2 separate regions of the Homo sapiens genome follow, and region 2 is linked to region 1. The links come from fine-mapping of genetic effects on gene expression. A gene starts in region 1. The other region holds a variant in brackets. All regions are shown on one strand. Distances are between the middles of the regions. Region 1 holds the start of TMED8 (transmembrane p24 trafficking protein family member 8). Region 2 holds the start of NOXRED1 (NADP dependent oxidoreductase domain containing 1).

Evidence for each region.
Region 2: its variant is fine-mapped to the expression of TMED8 in lymphoblastoid cells (TwinsUK, PIP 0.95).

Annotation. Positions count from the first base shown.
Region 1 is chr14:77,371,572-77,383,495 of GRCh38, forward strand. TMED8 (transmembrane p24 trafficking protein family member 8) reads right to left here and starts at 5,523. Exons shown (of 6, transcript NM_213601.3): 1 at 5,365-5,523. The coding sequence starts at 5,482. SAMD15 (sterile alpha motif domain containing 15) reads left to right here and starts at 5,808. Exons shown (of 3, transcript NM_001010860.4): 1 at 5,808-7,536; 2 at 8,812-8,910. The coding sequence starts at 5,848. RefSeq lists silencers at 886-935, 5,101-5,530, 8,924-9,104 and an enhancer at 5,581-5,790.
Region 2 is chr14:77,412,209-77,424,132 of GRCh38, forward strand. NOXRED1 (NADP dependent oxidoreductase domain containing 1) reads right to left here and starts at 11,315. Exons shown (of 6, transcript NM_001113475.3): 1 at 10,527-11,315; 2 at 1,726-1,919. The coding sequence starts at 10,681. The variant AT/A (reference allele first, on the strand shown) is at 5,682.

The DNA.
Region 1 (11,924 bases):
TGGTAAAACAACTTATAATTGGATTCAGAGAGGCAGGAAGTAAGAAAAGGAGAAAGAAAAACATAACTTTATTTCCAGAAGTATAAAGTGTGGGAGATGCAGCGCTGTTTCAGTGAGAGAGAATTATGAGCACAGCCTTTTAGGTTTCCTGAAGTTCTTCAGTGAAATTTAAGCCACTATGCAGAAGAAAAAGCCAATTTTCCTATAGTATAGCTTTTATTATATTAGCCAAATATAAGCCAATTCTGAAAGTATTCCTAGAAGAGATCAGAGAAATCAGGCCAGACTTTGCAAATTTAGATGGTATGTGGGGAAATGTTTTTTATTTTTAAAAATATGTATTCTAGTATATATTAAGAAAAATGGATATATCAAACTAGTAATATCGTAGGTATTATTTAGAATGAAACTTTTAAGTGTCAATCAAAATGTCAATTAAATGTCAATGTCAAGAAAAAATAGTAAATAACTAATACTGTAACGGTATTCTCCAGTGTGGCAAAGTCATTACCATGGTTCCTCAGTGGCCGAAATCTCGGAAACAATGAACGGAGGAGGAAAAATGGAAGCTTAACAATAACTTAATTTATCATTGATGGCCACTAAAGCAAAGGTGAGAGAGAAAAAAGGAACTTCCTTAAAATAACTTATTTTATATTTGACAACTTTTTAAATGTGCATTTTCTTTCTACATTACCAAAGGGTCTGGTTTCAGACATTCTGATCATGCTAGGGATTCAAACTTACTGTGTACTTCGTACTTTCCCTACAAGGAGAACCAAAAAGCAGGTTTTTTTCAAAAGCATTTGAATATCAGGTCAGGGTTCTTTAGAACAGGCCTCAGAGGATTTCCCCCTCAGTAAACAGGCTGCAAAGAGATAATTAGCCTGTCATTTTAGATTCCAGTGCAGAAGAACTAAAAGCAGGCTATGTGGTTACAGACTCAAGAGGCTTAAACGAAAACAAATTAAGTGAGTTTATGTTCCAACCAAATCTAGTGACCATGTGATCCAATTTCTCTTCAGCCCTTGAGTGGGACATGCTCCTGAGAGGTCACTCAGATTGTGCACCTTTGGTTATACTGTTTAGACTGAATCACGACATGAATAATCAACTATCTGACTAATCGACTATCTGGACACTAAAAACACAACCACTGTAAGAAAAAGAAAGCCACAGGCAGACAAAATGTTAACATTTTGACATAAAACCACAATAGAAAACTAAAAAACATCAAGGCTGTTTGTCATTGACTCCCTATTATTCTTACCATTCAACATGGTAGCCACCAAATTTTGAATTTTAATTCATGCACATTGAAATAGCCACAGATATTATATATATATATATATATATATATATATATATATATATATATATATTTTTTTTTTTTTTTTTTTTTTTTTTTTTTTGAGACAGCGTCTCCCTCTGTCGCCCAGGCTGGAGTGCAGTGGTGCAATCTCGGCTCACTGCAACCTCTGCCTCCTGGGTTCAAGTGATTCTCCTGCCTCAGCCTCCTGAGTAGCTGGGACAGATATGAAATATTTTCATCACTGCAAAAAGACTTATTGTAATATTCTAACTTCTACCTTAGAACCATGAACAAGTTTACCTGACCTGTTTCCATCCTCAACATCTAAATGTATTGATAGCTCTGGGGGACATACACACCAAACTAAGTTCTACTGCTGACTTCAGGATCACAATAGAGTTTTATTTTCCTTTAAACTTAAAAAAAAAACAAAAACAAAAACAAAAAAACCTGCCTTTAAGTGATGCAACAAGTATGCCTCAGATAGTTTCATAATTAAAGAATGATTTATCTCTCCTCTGGGGAACTGAAGAACCCAGGTGCCTCAAATAAAAGACTATTAAAAACAATTACAATGCATAAAACAATAAGAACACCATGACCACTGGAGAGCTTAGTTCATAAGAACATAAATCCTTTCCTTCCTTTTCACCAAAACCTCAGCTAACAAACATGAAGACACTCAATAGGTATTCTCTGCAGAGAACACTTTTAAAAAACAAGTTATGGTTATTCTGGATAATGACACATTCCTGCTTTGAAGGAATAAGATACACCAAAAAACCAAAACCCTTAACTCAACAATACCTGATATGGCTTGGATGTTTGTTCCCTCCAAATCTCACGCTGAAATGTGATTTCCAATGTTAGAGGTGAGGTCTGGTGGGAGGTGACTGGATCGTGGAGATGAATCCCTCATGAATGATTTGGCATCATCCTCTTGATGATAAGTGAGTTCTCACTCAGTTAGTTCACCTGAGATATGGTTGTTTAAAAGAGTCTGGGACCTCCTCCCGTCTCTCTCTCTCTCACTCCCAACTCTCGCCATGTGACATACCTGCTCCCCCTTTCAGTATGATTCTAAGCTTCTTGAGGCCCTCACCAGAAACAGATACCAACACCACACTTCCTGTACACCCTGCAATACCATGAGCCAATTAAAACTCTTTTCTTATAAATTACTCAGTCTCAGGTATTCCAAATGGACTAACAGAACACCTGAATATCCAATTCCATTTCTTACTGCTGTTTTCTCTCTGAAAGGGTGAGAGAAATCTCATTAAATTTCATTCTTTCTTAGAGCTCTATTGCTTACTCATTGTATCATTTTCTAGAGGAAGATGGCAGAAGGATCCAATCAAACGAATTCCAAGTTTAAAGCAGTTTTTTGGGGTTTACGCCCAAGCCTCTGGTCCAGGCCAAATATAGTATTTCCACACTGCTTTGGAAGCCCAGCTTAACTCTAACACAGCGTTCCCAAAAGCAGCACCACTGACATCTGGAGCCAGATACCTCCTTGTTATGGGGATTGCCCTGTGCCTTGCAGGATGTTTAGCAAACATCCCTAGCCTATCCTCACTAGATGTCAGCAATAGCTGCCACCAGTTGTGACGAGCAAAAATGTTTCCAAACATTGCCATGCCCTGGGGATACAAAATCGTACCTGGTTGAAAACCATTGCTCTAACCCAAGGAACATTCTTGGTTATCTCAACCCTAATTCTTCACATTCATTAGATGCTCATCCAGATCTCTGCATTCAGACTTTCTCTCACCATCAAACTCAGCAAATATTTGCGAAACCTCTAAAACACAACATCAAGGGCTCTAGATAAATAAACAAGCAAGAGAGATTCCGTTCCTAACTCCAAGCAGGTTTCTTAGTAGATAAAGAATTGTAATAAAAGACGCCCAATTATATAATGTTTTGAATTGTTAATTGTTTCTCCCTGAAATGGATCTCTCATCTCATCAAACTGAAAACACCTTGAGGACAGAGACCATAACCTGTCTGCGAGTACCAATACTTGATTCATGGCCAATAAAAACAAACAATTATAGACTTCATCATAACAAGATGACAATTTCATCCAGACAGTAAAAACTTGCGCTAACTTGAACAGGTAAGTTAACCTTTCTCAGCTGTAGTTTGTTCCTCTGTAAAATGGGAAGAAAATGATTGTTGACATGACTAAATCAGAAAATATAAATTTTTTTCCACCTCTGGCACAGAATAAGCATTCAATATCTGTAGGTTATCATTACTATTATTTTATTAGCAACAAATCCTACCTCAAGAGGAAGAGCTTGCTCTGGGCTACTATAATAAACCCCTACATGACATTAAAAAAAAAAATTATCACCCTGCATTCTGAGGGTAAGAGGAAGGAAAGTAAGCATCTCTACCAATGTCCTGGGAGGAAGTGAATGCAGGAATGAATTAGATGTCAGGGGGAAAAAAAAACACACTCATCTATCTAAAACGCGTGGGTACGTTTGCCATAAACACATGAGAACCTAAAGGGGAAGTAAAAACATGCTTAATTTGTAAATACTGGCGCATGCAAGGGACAAGTGTTATAAGACTTACCTTTCTGTGTTTACTTGCTTAGTCTTTTAGACATTATGCTTAGAATTTCTACTGCTATGTTAAATATATGCCAACGATTTTTAATTTAATACAAAGCAGAGTTCGTAAGAAAAAAAGGCAAAATTTGTCAGGTGTTTTAAAGTAAAAGAATATAAAATCATGGGAAAGAGCTGGGTGAGTTGTGTGTGTGTTTGAATAAGGCAGCATTATGAGAGGGAAGATACTTGGGATCAGAGTAGAAGACAGAAAAAGGCACCATGTTGGAAGCCATACATCCAAGAACACCTCTGGCGGCACAGGAAGTTCAACTGAACAAAAAGAGACCTTACTGTCACAATGGTTGAGACGAGTATAGTGTGTACCATGGACTATACCCCAAATGCCTTAGACAAAGCAGCTCAAGTAATCCTCACAATAATCCTATGAGGCAGATATTTTTAGTAATCACATTTTACAGATGAGGAAACTGACGTTTCAGACTCCAATCCAGGCACCCTGGCTCCACAGTAGTGCCTCAACCATTATACTTTATGGTGTCTATTTTAATTTCAGACCTAGAAAATTAATTTATATTTGCTACTTAAATAAGACAAGTTCTCTCCCCTCTACCCTTTCGTATTTCAAAAGAGCATCCTTTCAGTTGCATCGTGTGTGGTGTTCAGGAGGCTGAAAGAAGAAAGTGTGATGGATGGACTCTTTTGTCTTTGGACACTGAAATAATACACACGGAGGAACTCGCGTTAGTAGAAATGGAGACGTCGTCCTGGACAAGAAGAGGATGAGGGTCTTGAGAATGAGGGAGGTAGGCCAAATTTTTAATTCCTGCTCTTGCTTTGGCTACTGTGTTCAAGCAAAAGACCCCAGACACTACCTATTTCAACTCTGCTTTTCATTTTTCCCACTCTAAGCGATGGAGAGGATGGCAGCAAGGCCAGGGGGCCTATGTGCAGGAAGGCTAGGGCGCAGTGGGCTTCTGGCAGAGGAAGGCAAGGCTGCCAACCCGGGTGGGGGCCGAGAGGCGCGTGGTAAGGCTGGGGCAGGGGACTGAGATGGGGATAGGGTGGGGAGCCAGAAGCAGGGGGCGGCGAGGCCAGTAGGGTTCGGGTCGGCAGTCTAGATGTGATTAGCAGACGGAGGTGGGACCCGAACCCCGGCTGAAGCTGAAACTGAAGCTGAAGAGGCGCCAGGGGCAGAGCCACCCTGTCACTACCATTTGGGCAGATCTCAGAAAGGAAGCGGGGCAGGAATCAAGGCATTTCGAAACAGGAGTGAGTAGAAAATAACCTCGAGCCCAGGGCCCGGGTGGTGGCAGCGGCGGGGAAGGGGCCCCGCGCGCGAAGGGGCTGCCGAGGTGGGTCCGCTCCGCGGGGAAGCCCAGGACAGAGCGCGGCGGAGGCTCGCGCCGTGGTGCGGGGCCCTGAGGCCGGGCGGCACCCACCCGCCAGCGCCCCGGCCTTGCGTACCTGAGGCGGCCGCCTGGCTCCCCTCCACTCCCTGGCAGTCCCCGACGCCGCCAGCCGACCCTGGGCGGGCTGTGGGGCTCCAGGAGCCCGGCCCCTCAGCCGCCTGCAGGTCAGACATCTGCAGCCCGCGCACGGAGCTCTCCGCTGCCAGCCGCGAGTGGCTCCGGAAACAGCCGAAGGCCGAGCGAGCGCCGAGCACAGCCGAGCGCAGCCTGCAGGCCGGAAGAAGCGGCGCGGCGGCCGCTTGAAAAGCTAGCTGACCCAGGGGCGGCCACAGGAGCTCTGGCCCGCTGAGGCTGGCGATGAGGCCGCAGGGAGGGTTACTGCGTGCTTGTGACAGACGATTTTTAAAGTCAGGGCTTGAAAGAACAAACAAAACCTGGGGAAGAGTCAGGAAGACACTGCCGGAAATCGTGGTATCCATAGAGACGCTATCGGAAGTTGGGGTTGCTAGGAAGCCGCGGCGCGTCTGCTAAGCTGCAAATGGCTGAAGTCCCGGAGGATTATGATTCCGGCCCAGATGAAGATGGAGAGCTGGAGCCTGAGAGGCCTGAACTGCCTGGACTTCATAAATTGTATGAAAATGCCGAACCAGACACCATGGCAAAGGCAGACTCGAAGCTACCAGCAGAGATTTACCAAGAGCCACAGCCAGAGACCGAGGAAGAGGACTTCAAAGAGGGGGAGCCAGACAGTGCTAAGAACGTGCAGCTGAAACCTGGCGGGACGTCCCAGGAAGGAATTGCCAAGGAGTCCAAGAGAGACGTACCAAGCGAAACTGAACCAGGGATACACCAAGAGGTAAAGTCGGAAACATCCAGAGAGATGGGAGAGTTTTTCAAAGATTTGGAGGCCCCTATGGATGAAACGCATAAAGAGTCAGACCTAGAGCCACCAGAGGAGGCTAAACCAAATGTTACAGAGGATGTGTTCCTAGAGTCAGCTATGGAAACAGATCCAGATCCAGTGCCACCAACGGAAACCATGTCTGAGGTTTCGGGGGCCACAGTCAGAGAGAGAAATTTAGAATTACTAGAGGAGGAGACTGAACCGGGGGTTCCAGAGGAATCACTTAGAGTGCAACATGAAGAGACAGGTCTAGAGCCTCCAGAGCAGACCAAACAAGATTTTCCAAGTGAGAAACTAGGAGAATCACTTGAAGAGACAGATCTTCAGCCACCAAAGATGACCAAACCAGAGACTCCAGAGGAGACACAAAGAGAGTCAACTGAGAAGAAAAGGACAGAGCCACCCGAGCAGGCTAGACTGGAATTTCTGGAGAAGGAACCAAGAAAGTCTAGTGAGGAGGCAGGTCTAGAGCCTCCAGAAGAGACTCAACCAGAGGTTCCAGAGGAGATGCAAAGAAAGGCAACTGAGGAGAAAGGGACAGAACTACCTGAGCGGACTAAACCAGACTTTCCAGACCACAAGCCAAGAAAGTCTACTGATGAGAACGTTCCTGAGCCACTAGAAGAGATCAAATTAGAGTTTCCTGAGGAAGAATCAAGAAAAACAAATGAGGAAACAATTCTAGAACAATCAGAAATGATGAAACCAGAAAGTCCAGAAGAGATAAGAAAGTCAAATGAGAAAAAAAATCCACAGCCACCAGAGGAGACTGGTCCAGTGCTACCACAGGAGATCAACCCACAAGTTGAAGAGAAAACACAAACAAAGCCAACTGAGAAAATTCTAGAGTTACCAGATGAAACCAAACCAAGGGAGACACATGTAGAATTTTCCAAGGAAGACAGGCCAGAACCAATAAAGTCTAAGTATTCTGTAGGAAACGATGAGCTAGAGCACCGTGAGCCTAAAAGAGGAAAGTTGTCACTAAGTGACAAATTTAGAAAAGAATATTACGCATTAGGATCTCTCAGAGAAAGTGAAGAATCAATTGGTACACATTATGAGTTTTTGCAACCACTCCAAAAATTGCTTAATGTCAGTGAAGAATGCTCATACTCAGATCCCTCAGAGTCTCAGACAGAATTAAGTGAGTTCGTTCATGAAAAGGAAGTTGTAGATTTGTCCCAAGAGTTGAAGGAACGGGTCTCTGAAGATGACGAAACCCAGCCAGAAAAAGGGACTGAGTTACAATTTGAGCATCTTAATTGGGATCCAGAGGAAGTTGCAGAGTGGATTAGCCAGCTAGGCTTCCCTCAATACAAGGTATACAAAAATAAGATGTTTTGAAATCACATGCTGTCATCCGTCTACTTCTTATTCCTTCTAACTTGGCCTGAGCTCTTACCTCTTTACCGGAAGGAGTATCAAAAAGTCCTAGACTGTGGTAGAGGTAACTTGGATTTTAATTTTGGCCTTGCCACTGATGTATATTTGTATTTTGGGAGAGGAAGGGAGGGTCACATCGGTTTGTTTTTCCTCTTCCAGTGATTACACTTCTCTGCAATCCTTGAATAAAAGACCAAGAAGAGTATATAGACCTCCTTTCTTTTTTTTTTTTTGAGACACAATCTCGCTCTTGCCAAGGTTGGAGTGCAGTGGCACGATCTCGGCTCACTGCAAGCTCCACCTTCCCCAGGTTCACGCCATTCTCCTGCCTCAACCTCCTGAGTAGCTGGGACTGGGACTACAGGCGCCCGCCACCATGCGCGGCTAATTTTTTGTATTTTTAGTAGAGACGGGGTTTCACTGTGTTAGCCAGGATGGTCTCCATCTCCTGACCTCGTGATCCGCCAGCCTCAGCCTCCCAAAGTGCTGGGATTACAGGCGTGAGCCACCGTGCCCGGCCTTAGACCTCCTTTCATAGAAAACTGTATTTTTAAGTAGACTTTGTTCAAGGTAGGCTTTTTGGTACTTTGTCAAGTTATTTTAGTGGCAGCTCCCTTGCTTTGAACTTGTGCTATTACTTTTTAAAGTGTCTGCCCCAAATATGTCACCTGTATCATGAGCACTTAAGTGTATTAATTCAAGTTAGCCAGTTAACCAAAACTAGTTTTAGTAAAAAGTCAGTGTAAACCTCTTGTTTCACTGATGCCAACTAGGTTTAAGGCTACCACAAAACAATACAAGATCTGAAACCTTTTGTACCTACTATACTTACAAATGTAATTGAGACATGAAGAAGCACTGGTTGTACCATGCCCAAAAAAACAGTTAAAGAGCAGTGTAAAATTTAATAAAGAGCTTACATGGAAAAATTGTGCCGTTATTGGGATAGAAAGTAAATTTAAGCTACTCAGGAGGCTGGGGCAGGAGGACTGCTTGAGTCCAGGAGTTCGAGGCTGCAGTGATCTATGACTGCAGCACTGCACTCCCGCCTGGATGACAGAGTGAGACCCTGTCTCTAAAAAAGAAAAAACAAAATAATATTTTTTTCTCAGGGTAGAACAAACACGACTTCTTCCCTTCCTCCCCCTTCCCTCCCTTTCTTCCTTCTATTTGCAGTACATTTTTTAAGTGATGTCCTTGTTGTATTGACAGGAGTGTTTTATCACAAACTTCATCAGTGGCCGAAAACTCATTCACGTCAACTGCTCAAACCTCCCTCAGATGGGGATAACAAACTTTGAGGACATGAAGGTGAGTTGTGTCCAAAGTTTCCCTACAGAGCACTGTTAACAGTGCCACCATCTGTCTCAAACCAACCTTTTTTTCCTCCAGCCTGGCCTCCCACTTCTGTCAATGGTGTCATCATAATTCCAGTTCCTCAGGCTCACGGTGGTTGCCTCCTCTTTCTCCTTTGATCCCCATAAATATTCCAAGAACTGTCCATTGCTCCTGTGGCACTTACACCGTCTGGCTTTCTTCATTCCCACTTTTCAGACCTTATGGCCTCATGCCTAGAACACCACAGTGGCCTCCCGCTTTTAGCCTGTCTCAATGGACCCTTTGGATTCAAGGGCCCTGCTTTTATGCTCTCACTTTCCACCTACTTATGTACTATTCAAAAACCTTCTTTGGATCCCTTCTGCTTACCAAGATAGTCTCCACTCCCTAGTTTAGAATTTAGGGCCCTCCACAAGTTCTCTCCCCTACCACTCCTCCACATGAATTTTGTGCTCCAGCCTACCACCAGGTCTAACACCTTCGCAAACCTGCCTGGTGCGTTCTTCTCTCTATGTCTTCGCTCAGTTCCCCCATCCTCTGTATTACTAATATGAATCTTAATCATCCTTCAAGACCAGTTCCTCATTTGCATCTCCCCAAGAAGTCTTTTGTAACATTCCCAGCCCACAGTAGCCCCCATCCCAAGTTCTCATGACATTTTGTGTCTCTGACACCCATTTGGCACTTATATAACACCATATGTATTTTGCCTGCTTTGCTGCCTAACTTTGAAACAAGCTACATTAACCACTCTGAGCATCAATTTTCTAAAATCTCCAGCACCAACAGTTCATGATTATTCTCCTTTGCATAACAGTACCCTCCATTTGTAGTGCTTTGCAATTTACAAAGCATCACAAACAATCTCACGTGTAACCTCTCCTTTAGTACCCCACCCCAATAACCCTCCAAGAATGGACAGTTCTTGGCATAACCATGGTTTTGCTCAGCACACCCATGCCCAGAAATGTACCACCTCAGTGGTTTCCAAACTTGGGTCGTCTTCAGAATCAAATGAGATTTTTTGAAAAAGATACATTCCTAGGCTTCATCCTCCAGAGATTTTGATTCATTAGGGCTGGGTAGGCCCTGGAATCTCTTCCCTAGATGACTCTTCAACAGGCCTTATAACCCTAAAATTCCATAAGTCATATGGTTTAGAAATAAGAAAACTATGCTTGTTAATACCTGAGTCCTTTTACTAGCAAGAAGATATAACGAAACTTTTTAAATTATTAAACATACAGTCCTAACTGAGCGTTTACTTTCTTAAATTCTGCTAATAGCTATGCTTTGCTGAGAGCTTACTGTGTTTGGGGCCTCTTATATGTATTATTTCACTAATTCCCATTTTATAGAAAACTGGGGCCCAGAAAGGTGAAACAACTTAACAAGCTATTCAGATAATACGTTTTTTCTGTTTTTTGTCTTTGTTTTTGTTTTTTTTGAGACAGGGTCTCGCTCTGTCACCCAGGCTGGAGTGCAGTGGTGTAACCTTGGCTCACTTCAACCTCCATCTCCTGGTTTAAGCGATTCTCCTGCCTCAGCCCCCCAAGTAGCTGGGACTACAGGTGTGCGCAACCATGCCCAGCTAATTTTTTCTTCTTGTTGTTTTTTTGGGGTTTTTTTTTTTTGAGACCGAGTCTCACTCCGTTGCCCAGGCTGGAGTGCAGTGGTGCGATCTCAGCTCATTGCAACCTCCACCTCCCGGGTTCAAGCGATTTTCCTGCCTCAGCCTCCCGAGTAGCTGGGACTACAGGCGCGTGGCACCACGCCCAGCTAATTTTTGTATTTTTAGTAGAGATGGGGTTTCACCGTGTTAGCCAGGATGGTCTTGATTTCTTGACCTCGTGCTCTGCCTGCCTCGGCCTCTCAAAATGCTGGGACTACAGGCGTGAGCCACCGCACCTAGCCTAATTTTTGTATTTTTAATAGAGACAGGGTTTCATGATATTGGCCAGGCTGGTCTCAAACTCCTGACCTTAAGTGATCTGCCGGCCTTGGCCTCCCAGAAGTGCTGGGATTATAGGCATGAGCCACCACGCCCGACTTATATTCAGATAACAAGTTTAAGAGCCAGGATTTAAGTCCATCTTGTGTGACTTCCCAATCCATGTTCTATTTAACTGTATTGCCTAAGTGAACATTTTTGTTACCATAAACTTCCATGTACTATAAACATTATGATGTGGAAATGATCCTTTATTTATTTTATTTATTTTTTTGAGACAGAGTCTTGCTCTGTCACCCAGGCTGGAGTGCAGTGGCTCGATTTCAGCTCACGGCAACCTCCGCCTCCCAGGTTCAAATAATCCTCCTGCCTCAGCCTCCCAAGTAGCTGGGATTACAGGCACGTGCCACCATGTCTGGCTAATTTTTGTATTTTTAGTGGAGCCGGGGTTTCACCATGTTGGCCATGCTGGTCTCGACCTCCTGACCTCAGATCCACCCGCCTCAGCCTCCCAAAGTGCTGGGATTATAGGCATGAACCATGCCCAGCCTGGATCATTTATTATATACTTGTATTTCCAACCATGCCCTCACTTAACTACCAAGTACTGCCAGATAAATATCTTGTTCTTTTTATGTTCAAAGATAATACAGCTGTTTTTATGAACTCTAATTTCTACTTAAGGTATAATGAATTTTCTAGATAAAAATAAGGAACAGGCTGCTCTGCCTACGGAGCAGCCATAGTCCTTGACTTTCTTAATAAACTTGCTTTCGCTTAAAAAAATAATAATAATAAGGAACAGAATTAGCAAAATAGTAACCTGTCAAATTCCTGGAACATTTAAGTACCAAGAATTTCAGCTTTTTATCATGAGAAGGCATTTTTAAGAGTCAGACAATTCATTCAGCTCCCTTGGTATTCTAATTCCAAAAGTACAATATCAACATGCAGTAATAAAAATTCTAATTATAGTTTTTCTTATCTTGCGAGACACAAGAGGTTTTAAAAATCTTCTGAAATCCTCAAGAGTAAA
Region 2 (11,924 bases), 41 kb after region 1:
TAGTTACATAAATTATGGTACATCCATACTTTGGGATATTATACAACCTTAAAATCTATTTTTTTACATTAATCTCTTACTAATATAATTAAAATTTTAAATCCTGAGATGAAAACAGAGAAAGGAAGAATAGTGTAGGGTGTCTAGTGGTCTTAGCCACTGCTGGGCACAACTACATAGTCTGTGCATCCAAACACCAGGTACAGCAAGCACACCCTGCTAGGGAGATGCAAGAGACTGTGCTCAAAGCCTGCTGGGGTAACCTTCTACTGTGGGAAAGTGGAGGGGCTTAACATCATTATTTCTTATTGATTGATTAATTGAGACAGAGTCTTACTCCGTTGCTGAGGCTGGAGTGCAATGATGTGATCTCACCTCACTGCAAGCTCCGCCTCCTGGGTTCAAGTGATTTGCCTGCCTCAGCCGCCTGAGTAGCTGGGACTACAGGAACCCACCACTACACCTGGCTAATTTTTGTATTTTTAGTAGAGACTGGGTTTCACCATGTTGGCCAGGCTGGTCTCAAACTCCTGACCTCAGGTGATCTGCCCACCTCGGCCTCCCAAAGTACTGGGATTACAGGTGTGGGCAAATCATTATTTCAAAAAATGTTAAACGATACGAGAATATGCTCATGATACATTATGTAAAAAAAAACAGAATACAAACAACTGTATACAGTGTCGATTACTGATATAATTAGAGAAAAAAAAAACACGGGAAGGAAATAACCCGAGTAGATTATAGGTAGTTGTATCCTTCCTTGTAGACAAATTTTCTACAATATGCATATTATTTTACATTTTTTATTATTGAAGTATAATTTACATATAATGCAAAACACAGATATGAAGTGTACAGTTTGATCAGTTTTGACAAAAGCATACACCCATTTAACCCATACCTCTCTCTCAAGATATAAAACATTTTCATCTCCCCAGAAAAAGTTGCTTTGGGACTTTCTCAGTCTATCTCCCCAGAAGAAATCATTGTTCTGATTTCTATCACCATAAATGGAATCATTACAAAACTTTTTTTTTTTTTTTTTTGAGACGGAGTCTTACTCTATCTCCAGGCTGGAGTGCAGTGGTGTGATCTCAGCTCACTGCAACCTCTGCCTCCTGGGTTCAAGCAATTCTCCTGCGTCAGCCTCCTGAGTAGCTGGGACTACAGGCACGCACCATCATGCCCAGCTAATTTTTGTATTTTTAATAGAGACAGGGTTTCACTATGTTGGCCAGGATGGTCTCAATCTCTTGACCTCGTCATCTGCCCGCCTTGGCCTCCCAAAGTGCTGTGATTACAGGCGTGAGCCACCGCGCCCGACCACAAAACATTTTTTTAAAGTCAGTAAATGTCATTTTTAAAAATATAAGGCCAACTGCAAATGCCTGGAACTGTTTAACACCCAACCAGACCCTAACTGATTCAGTTAGAAGATCTGAACTCTGTATGGAAAGCTTCCCTGTATCAAAGATCTGGAAAGATACTTCACCACCAAGGGCACAGGGAGGAGACATGGATATAAAACACATACATGGAGAAAAAAAGTCGCTTTAAAGAACAGGAGAAAAGGCCATGCTTCTAACCTTTCTTAGGGCTAGCAAGCTGAGAACTCCACACGCTGTATGCAAGGATTCCTCTTTGGAGGACCCTTTCAAAATGGCTTTGTTGACACCTACACAGCACAACCAAGCCCCCTTTCTACCACACACTGCTCCTCACCCAGAGTCTCTGGCCTCCGAGTGGAGATCCGCAGGCTTTCAGCAGGGATGGGGCCAAGCTGCAGCAGTGTGCCAGCCAGCTGCTTCCCAAGGTGGCCACCTCCAATGATGCCCACCTTAAACTCTTCAGGAGTGGCTGAATTAAGGGAGCCAATTGAGAGATGTCTGGAACTTTGATTCTTATTTAATGATGCTCTGGAGAATGAACACACAGACACGTACATAAATACATGCACACACTAGTTTTTCTTTTTTTTTTTTTTTTTTGAGACAGAGTCTTGCTTTGTCGCCCAGGTTAGAGTGCAATGGGGTGATCTTGACTCACCGCAAGCTCCGCCTCCCAGGTTCACGCCATTCTCCTGCCTGTCTCCCGAGTAGCTGGGACTACAGGTGCCTGCCACCACTCCCGGCTAATTTTTTGTATTTTTAGTAGAAACAGGGTTTCACTGTATTAGCCAGGATGGTCTCCATCTCCTGACCTCGTGATCCACCCGTGTTGGCCTCCCAAAGTGCTGGGATTACAGGCGAGAGCCACCGCACCCGGCCTAGTTCTTCTTAACTGTCATTCTCTGACATTTTCTGCTTTGTCATTTAAGGTGCTTGGTGGCACCTTAAGTACTTCGGAGATAAGACATTTCAACTGTGTGTCATTTATCCAGCCTCACTAGGGAATGAAATGTTCCTCCTGAGTTAATTTTCCAGAAACAAAAGTATAACCCTTTTCAAGGGACCAAAATTTAAAATGTTTTAAATGAACATACTTTGTTACATGTATTATGCTTGCCTGGTTAAACAGTCTGAATATTTAATCATTTCACTGGCTCAGGACACCACTGTGAACAGCCACTATTATACAGCATACTGTAATGTCTATAACACATTGTGGGCCAGTCCCCTCATGTTTTGTTTGTTTCTGTGCAGACAGCTTTCAATTTTTTTTTTTATTGTGGTTAAAAAACACATGCTGGGTACGGTGGCTCACATCTATAATCCCAGCACTTTGAGAGGCCAAGGCAGGCAGATCACTTGAGCTCAGGAGTTTGAGACCAGCCTGGGCAACATGTAAGACCTCGTCTCTACAAAAAATACAAGAATTAGCCAGGTATGGTGGTGCACACCTGTAGTCCCAGCTACCCAGGAGGCTGAGGTGGGAGGATTGCTTGAGCCCAGGAGTTTGAGGCTGCAGTGAGCTGTGCTCGTGCCACTGTACTCCAGCCTGAGTGACAGAGCAAGACCCTGTCTCAGGAAAACACACACACACACACACACACACACACACACACACACCATGAACTTCACCATCATAACCATTTTTAAAGTGCACAGTACAGTTGTGTTAATTATATGCACATTGTGGCTAGGCATGGTAGCTGATGCCTGTAATCCCAGCACTTTGGGAGGCCAAGGCGTGTGGATCACTTGAGGTCAAAAGTTTAAGACCAGCCTGGCCAACATGGTGAAACCCCATCTCTATTAAAAATATAAAAATTAGCCCAGCATGATGGTGTAAACCTGTAGTCTCTGCTACTCAGAAGGCTGAGGCAGGAGAATCTCTTGAACCCGGGAGGTGGAGGTTGCAGTGAGCCAAGATCCACTACTGCACTCCAGCCTGGGCAATAGAGCAAGACTTGATCTCAAAAAAAGAAAATACATATAGATAGATAGATAGATAGATAGATAGATAGATAGATAGATAGATAGACAGACAGACAGACATATAGATATAGTTGTGCAACAGCTCTTTAGAACCTTTCCATCTTGCAAAACTGGAACTCTATATGCTTTTTTTTTTTTTTCGAGACAGTCTCCCTCCATTGCCTGAGCTGGAGTGCTGCGGCACAATCTCAGCTCACTGCAACCTCCACCTCTCACATTCAAGCAATTCTCTGCCTCAGCCTACTGACTAGCTGGGATTACAGGCGCGTGTCACCACACCCCACGCCCAGCTAATTTTTGTATTTTTAGTAGAGATGAGGTTCTCCATGTTGGCCAGGCTGGTCTCGAACTCCCCACTTCAAGTGATCCGCCCACCTCCGCCTCCCAAAGTGCTGGGATTATAGGCATGAGCCACCACACCCGACCTGAAACTCTATACAATTTTTCTCTCTCCCCAGCCCCTGGAAACTACCATTCTACTTTCTGTTCCACTACTTTAGATACCTCATATAAGTAGAATTATGCAGTATTGTCTTTTTGTACATGGCTAATTTCACTTAGCATAATGTCCTCAAGCTTCATCCATATCAATTTTTGGATTTTTTTTCTATCTTCATGAAAAATGTCATTGGGATTTTGATAAGGATTGCAGTGCATCTGTAGACAGCAATCTACAGGGTCATAGGACAATAGCGTGGGAAGGTCAGCAGATAAACAAGTGAACAAAGGTCTCTGGTTTTCCTAGGCAGAGGACCTTGCGGCCTTCCACAGTGTTTGTGTCCCTGGGTACTTGAGATTAGGGAGTGGTGATGACTCTTAAGGAGCATGCTGCCTTCAAGCATCTGTTTAACAAAGCACATCTTGCACCGCCCTTAATCCATTCAACCCTGAGTGGATACAGCACATGTTTCAGAGAGCACAGGGTTGGGGGTAAGGTCACCGATCAACAGGATCCCAAGGCAGAAGAATTTTTCTTAGTACAGAACAAAATGAAAAGTCTCCCATGTCTACCTCTTTCTACACAGACACGGCAACCATCCGATTTCTCAATCTTTTCCCCACCCTTCCCCCCTTTCTATTCCACAAAACCGCCATTGTCATCATGGCCCGTTCTCAATGAGCTGTTGGGTACACCTCCCAGACGGGGTGGTGGCTGGGCAGAGGGGCTCCTCACTTCCCAGTAGGGGCGGCCGGGCAGAGGCGCCCCTCACCTCCCGGACAGGGCGGCTGGCCGGGCGGGGGGCTGACCCCCCCACCTCCCTCCCGGACGGGGCGGCTGGCCGGGCAGAGGGGCTCCTCACCTCCCAGTAGGGGCGGCCCTTTCTTATTTTTAACGTAGGCATTTACCCCTATAAAGTTTGCTCATAGTACTGCTTTTGTTGCAACCCATAAGTTTTGGTATGTTGTTTTCATTTTCACTTAAGATATTTTCAAATTTTCCTTGTGATTTCCTGTTTGATTCATTGGTTGTTCAAGAGTTGTGTTGACTTCCACATATTTGTGAACTTTCTAGTTTTTCTTCTGCTATTTCTAGTATCATTCTATTATGGTCAAAAAAAAAAAAAAAAGACGGTTGGTATGATTTGAATCTTCTTAAATTTGTTAGGACTTATTTTGTGACCTAACGTGATCTATCCTGGAAAATGTTCCATGTGCACTTGAAAAGAACGTGTATTCTGCTGCTGAGTGGAGTGTTATGTACTTGTCCATTAGGTTCTAATTGGTGTGTCATGTTGTTCAAGTCTTCTGTTTCCTTACTAACCTTTTGTCTGGTTGTTCTATCCATTATTGAAAGTTGGGTATTAAAATCTCCTACTATAATTGTATACCTTCAGTTATGTCAATATTTGCCTCATATATGTGGATGTTCTGATGTTAAGTACATATATAATTGTTGTGTCTTCCTGGTGAATTGGTCTTTTTATCATCATGTCATTCTTTGTCTCTCATGACAGTTTTTGACTTAAAACCTATTTTGTCTGATACAAGTATGACTACTCCTGTTCTTTTTTGGTTACCATTTACGTGGAATTATCTTTCTCTATGGTCTGACTTTCAGCCTATATGTGTCCTAACATCTAAAGTGAGTCTCTTGAAGACAAGATATACGTTGGATCTTGTTTTTGTTTTTGTTTTTTATCCATTCAGCCACTCGGTATCTTTTGATTGATGGGTTTAATCCACTTACATTTAAAATAATTACTGATAGGGAAGGACTTATCACTGCCAGTTTGTTTTTTTCTCTGTGTTGCAGTTTTGTTCTTCTTTTCCTCTCTTGCTGCCTTCTTTTGTATTTCACTG[AT/A]TTTTTTTTTTTGTAATGACATTATTTTCTTTTTGTTGTTGGTATTTTCTTTGTAGTTACCGTAGGAAATTGCATAAAAATCATAAAAATAGTTGTAACAACCTATTTTAAGATGATAATGTCAATCATATACAAAAACTCTACTTCATCTTCCCCTACCCCTGCTTTTTGTTATTTATCTCATGAATTATATCTTTTGGATATTTTGTATCCATTAGCATGGTTTTATAGTAATAGGTTTTTTTTTAGTATTTTTATTTTTGAGACAGGGTCTCACCCTGTGGCCCAGGCTAGAGTACAGTGGCGTGAACACAGCTCACTTCAGCCTTGATCTCCTGGGCTCAGGTGATCCTCCCGCCTCAGCCTCCCAGGTAGCTGGGACTACAGGCACACACCATCATACTTGGCTAATTTTTGTTATTTCTAGTAGAGACAGGGTTTTACCACATTGCCTAGGTTGGTCTCGAACTTCTGGAATCAAGCGATCCGCCTGCCTTAGCCTCCCAAAGTGCTGGATTACAGGCGTAAGCCACCGTGCCAAGCCTATTTTTAATTTTTATTATTTATATTTATACTTATTGATATTTATAATTTTATTTTATACATTTTATTATTTCTATATTTACATTTTTATATACATTTTATTTATCTATTTATGAGACAGGGTCTCGCTCTGTCACCCAGGTTAGAGTGCAGTGACATGATCATTGCTCACTGCAGCCTCTACTTTCCAGGCTCAAGCAATCCTCCCACATCAGACTACCACGTACCTGAGACCACAGGTGTGTACCACTATGCCCAGCTAATTGTTTTTTTTTTTAAGAGATGTTGTCTCCCTATGTTGCCCAGGCTAGTCTCAAACACCTAAGCCCAAGCAATTCTCCTGCCTTGGCCTCCCAAAGTGCTGAGATTACAGGTGTGAGCCATCACACTTGGCCAGCTTTTATCTTTAAATCCTATACCACAATTAAAAATGATTTATGTGCCACCCATCACAGTATTATGTATATGGCTATATATTCACCTTTGCCAGAGAGCTTTTTATTTTTGTATACTTTTGTGTTGTTGACTAGCATGTTTTCATTTCAACTTAAGGATTCCCTTCAGCATTAGTTGTAAGGCAGGTCCAGGAGTGATGAGGTTTTTTGTTGTTGTTTATCTGGGAAGCTCTTTCTTTCTCTTTTTTTTTTTTTTTCTTGAGATAGAGTTTTGCTATTGTCACCCAGGCTGAAGTGCAGTGGTGCAATCTCAGATCACTGCAACCTCTGCCTCCCTGGGTTCAAGCAATTCTCCTGCCTCAGCCTCCCAAGTATCTGGGATTACAGGTACCTGCCACCATGCCCAGCTAATTTTTGTATTTTTAGTAGAGACAGGGTTTCACCACGTTGGCCAGGCTGGTCTTGAACTCCTGACCTCAGGAGATCTGCCCGCCTCGGCCTCCCAAAGTGCTGGGGTCACAGATGTGAGCCACCATGCCCAGCTTCTCCTTAGTTTTTGAAGCACAGGTTTGCAAGAGATAGTATTCTTGGTTGACAGGTTTTTTTTTTTCTTTTTCCTTTTTTTTTTTTTTTTTTTTGAGACAGAGTCTCGCTCTTTCGCCCAGGCTGGACTGCAGTGGTGCAATCGTGGCTCACTGCTACCTCCGCCTCCCGGGTTCACGCCATTCTCCTGCCTCAGCCTCCCAAGTAGCTGGGACTATAGGCGCCCGCCACCACGCCCGGCTAATTTTTTGTATTTTTAGTAGAGACGGTTTTTCACCATGTTAGCCAGGATGGTCTCGATGTCCTGACATCGTGATCCGCCCCCCTCAGCCTCCCAAAGTGCTGGGATTACAGGCGTGAGCCACCACACCTGACCAACAGGTTTTTTTTTTCTTTCCCCTTTCAGCACTTTGAATATATCAAGCACTCCCTTCTGGCCTGTAATGTTTCTGCTGAGAAGCCACCAATAGTCTTCTGGGAACTCCCTTGCATGTGATAAGTTGCTTTTTCTTTGCAGCTTTCAGTATTCTTTGTCTTTGACTTTTGATGGTTTGATTATAACGTGTCTCTGTGTGGTCCTCTTTGGGTTCATCCAAATTGGAGTCCTCTGAGCTTCTTGAATTTGGATGTCCATTTCCTTCCTCAGATCTGGGATGTTTTTGGCCATTATTTCTTCAAATAAGCTCTTTGCACCTTGCTCTGCCTCTCTTCTCCTTCTGACATTCCCATAAGGCATATATTGACCCACTTGATAGTATCCTGTAAGTCCTCTAGATTTTCTTCACTTTTCTTTTCTTTTTGCTCTTCTGATTTCATAATTTCAAATAACTGGTCTTCAAATTTGCTGATTCTTTCTTCTGTGTGATCAAGTCTAATGTTGAACCACTCTAGTGAGTTGTTTCAATTCAATTATTGTGCTCTCCAGCTCCAAATTTTGGTTCTTAGTTTCTCTTTATGATATTATTTTATTCATGTATTGTTTTCCTGATTTCATCAGTTTTTTTTTGTTTTGTTTTGTTTTTTCAGAGACAGGGTCTCACTATGTTGCCCAGGCTGGTCTCAAACTCCTGGGCTCAAATAATCCTCCCACCTCAGCATCCCAAACTGCTGGGATTACAGGCCTGTAATTTGTAATTTGTAATTTGTAATTACAAATTACAGGCCTGTAATCTGTAATCTGTAAACTTTGCCCAGCCTAGTTGTTTTTCTGTGTTTTGTAGCTCATTGAGCCTCTTTAAGATTATTACTTTGAATTCTTTGTTAGGTAACTCACAGATCTGTTTCTTTAGGGCTGGTTTCTGCAGTAGTTTGTTCTTATGGTTGAGCAATATTGCCTTTTTAATTTTTGGTGGAATTTGGGCATTTGAAAAAACAGTCAGGCCTCTCCCAATCTTTACAGACTGGCACCATACAGGGGAAGATCTTTCCCAATCAGCCCAGCTAGAGATTCTGGGGCCTGTCAAATCTTTCCAGGAATGTGTCTTCTCTGGGCTTGAGTTTGGAATTTCCCAATTAAAGAGTTTTGCCTGTTTCTATTGCAGGGGCTGATAATCTTTTCCTCACTTTGGTATCTATCTGCAGTACTGCAGGTTCTCTGTACTGCAACAAGCCACTGAGTGATCCTTTGTTTTCATCCAAAATATGTTGGTTCCTCATCAGTGCTCCAAGTCATGTGAGACAGAAACCAATCCCTCAGGCAGCCCCCAAAAAGGCAGAACAGTGGACAAACATTCCATTTTTCTTTTTCCCTCCAAAGGAGAAGCCACAAATTAGGCATTTTCTCCTGATCACCTGAGGCTGGCTTGAGGAAAGGGATATCTTAGGTGAACTGCAATGGCTTTTCTTACCCCTGTAAATGCAGCTGTTCTTGGATTTGTACCTCTCCAGGGCACTACAATTTCTTAAGTGCTTGCTGGAGGTTTCATAAAGGCTTTTTGGACCATATATTGTTGTTAAGTTAGTGTCTCGAGGTTACAGAGTCTGGAGCTTCCTATTTCTTCATCTTACTGATACCAATCTGAGACAGATGTCAATTTTTATTGCTATTAGATGTGAGTGCATTCCTTTCCTACGATACACCCACTCTTTCTAGTTTGCTATTTCAAATCTGCAGACTTGAGAAACCAGATAACTTGGCTTTTTAAGAAGGTTATGACTTATACACATAAATGGTTTATAAAAACAAAACAGTGTTCATTCAGGGTACAACTTTAAACTACAAAAACAAAACAAAAAAGAACAGAACTGAGAAACTAAGGATGAAGATTTCAGACCACTATTTCCAGAGGTTCACTTACTGTTGGTGCTGGATGTGTTTCCTTGGCGCAAGATTAACAAAGTCAGACTTCTGAATACATAAGGTATACTTTCGTTGCTATATGACAGCCTTATATTTGTTCTGTATTTCTGTAAAAACCAGTGTCTTAAAGCTCTGGATTTTGCTTCTAAGCAACATAAGTCACTCTCTATTTAAGCCTTCTCTCCTGGTTGAAAGAGCATTTTCTCTTAGTGCCTGATCCTTCCAAATATAAAATGCCACCTGCAAGTTTCATATATTGTTTTCTCCCAGTCATATTGAGTACCACCAATAGGTTTATGCATCCTTATCAGTAAGCCAGTCAGTAAATTCACTGAGAAGCCTGCCTCCTTGGACATGTGCTGTATCTATAAACATGTTCAATTCAAATTTGGTCCCACCATCTAGGAATTAATCTAACTTCAGAGAAAAACTAAGAAGTAGAGTGAGGAGGTGACATATGCTCCCAGAGTGACCTGGAGTTGCAGAATTCAGAAGCCTAATTATAGGTACCTGCTTCACACACATTTCCTATTTAAGTGTCTGAAGCCATATTGTAGAAAGATATCAGAATCAAGACTGGACTGACAGCTTTTCTGCAAATCAATATTCCTGGTTTCAAGGAAGTCACTGGCACAGGGCCTGTGAAGTCCCGGGTAGCTTCCTGTAAGGGAGCATTCCACTATTACCTCAGCCCCAAAAGAAAGAACTGATTCCATTTGCATTCCTTGCCAATAGATAAGGAATGGCTAGACATTAGCAACTGTGGAGGGCAAGCTGGTGGTCATGATGACTGAGTGAATGGATGAATAAATGATCATTTAATCAATCCATCCACTAAAAGGTAATCACTACTAATCCATGCTTTATTATGTAACCACAGCCAGGGGACCCTGGTATAGATTTTCCTGTCCTTTTAGACCAGGAGTCATTGACTCTGGGTTGGAAAAGATAGGATGACAATCCACCAGCCAAACTTACCCTCCAATATAAAAAAAATTTAAGACATTTGAATTCTCAGCAGTGAGATTCTTGTCCATCTTCCTGAATTTGGATACTCGGCTTACCTCAAATTATATAATAGTTTGCAGAAGAAGGTTGCATGGGCACAAGCCTCGATCATCAGTCCCCGAGAACGGCCCTGCAAATACAGCCAGATACGATCTTCCTCTGGAACCCCATACTCAAACTGCAGGGACTCAAGGTCCTGGAGCATGTCCATTTCCAAGCCACTATTTCCTGCAGTGATAGACACTAATCAATTTGGCTCCCTGTCCCGGTAGAAGAGGGGTCTATGTAGGAGGTGTGTGTATGATGGTGTGTGTGCCCAGGTCACAAGCACTCATGATGATGGGCTTCAGCACCTCTCTACTCCCAGATTCTGAATTTGGAATTCACCTCTCTTGAATTCACACTCTAGAGTGTGAGTGTTTGAGGATTCCTAATCACTGGCTGCCCATGAATCCTGGACTCATGAAAAACCTGTACAGAAACCCAAAGTATTGTTTCTCCACACAGGTTACAGGCACTGTTTTCGGCAGATGAATTTACAACAGCAATTGAGTTTTACAGGTATTCTTGGGCCAGGACGTTTTCCCTTCCATTCCCTCCTGCGTTTTGGAAATAGGACTGAACACATAGAACCACATTTCAAAGAAATGCTTCCCTTTCACTAAACTCTGTTCTCCACAGGGTACAAAATAACCCAAACTAAATATCATTGTCCCCTGTCTAGGGCAGGGACATCTAGATTTTACAAACTAAACTCAAAGTCATATAAACCCATCTACATATATCTATCACCAAACAGAGAAGATTGGCTCTGCTCCTCAGTACTTCTGATCCTGGAAGGTAAGAACTACATTTCTAAGGAGAATTACCAAGAAACTTGTGATTATGACTCCTTAACTACCAGATTACAGTCTCTAAGTCTTAAAGAGGCCAGCCCCACTTAGAGGTTTTCCTGAGCTGCGTATCAGGACATGAGTTCCTTCCACTATTTCTAGGAGTACTACACTAGAGCAGTATGAGACCCTCCTTTTCCCAACAGAAGATTCTGGATTTCTAGGGGTTTTTTTTGCAGACTAGAATATCTTACAGATCTTAGCACTACTTGAGTTAGTTTACAACTCCTTCTTTTTGTGTTCAAGAAACCAATAAAATTTTTTCAGGTGAAATCCACATAACATAAAATTAGCCATTTTAAAGTGAACAATTCATCAGTACATTCAGAATGTTGTGCCACCACCTCTATCTTGTTGCAAAATACTTTCATATTCCCAAAAGGAACGCCTACACCCATTAAGCAGTTACTCCCTATCCCTCCCCACCCTCAGCCTCTGGAACCACCAATCTGCTTTCTGTCTGAATGGATTTACCTATTCCAGATATTTTATATAAATGGAATCATACAATATGTGACCTTTTGTGTCTGGCTTCTCTAATCCCTTTTATAGGAAGGCTGT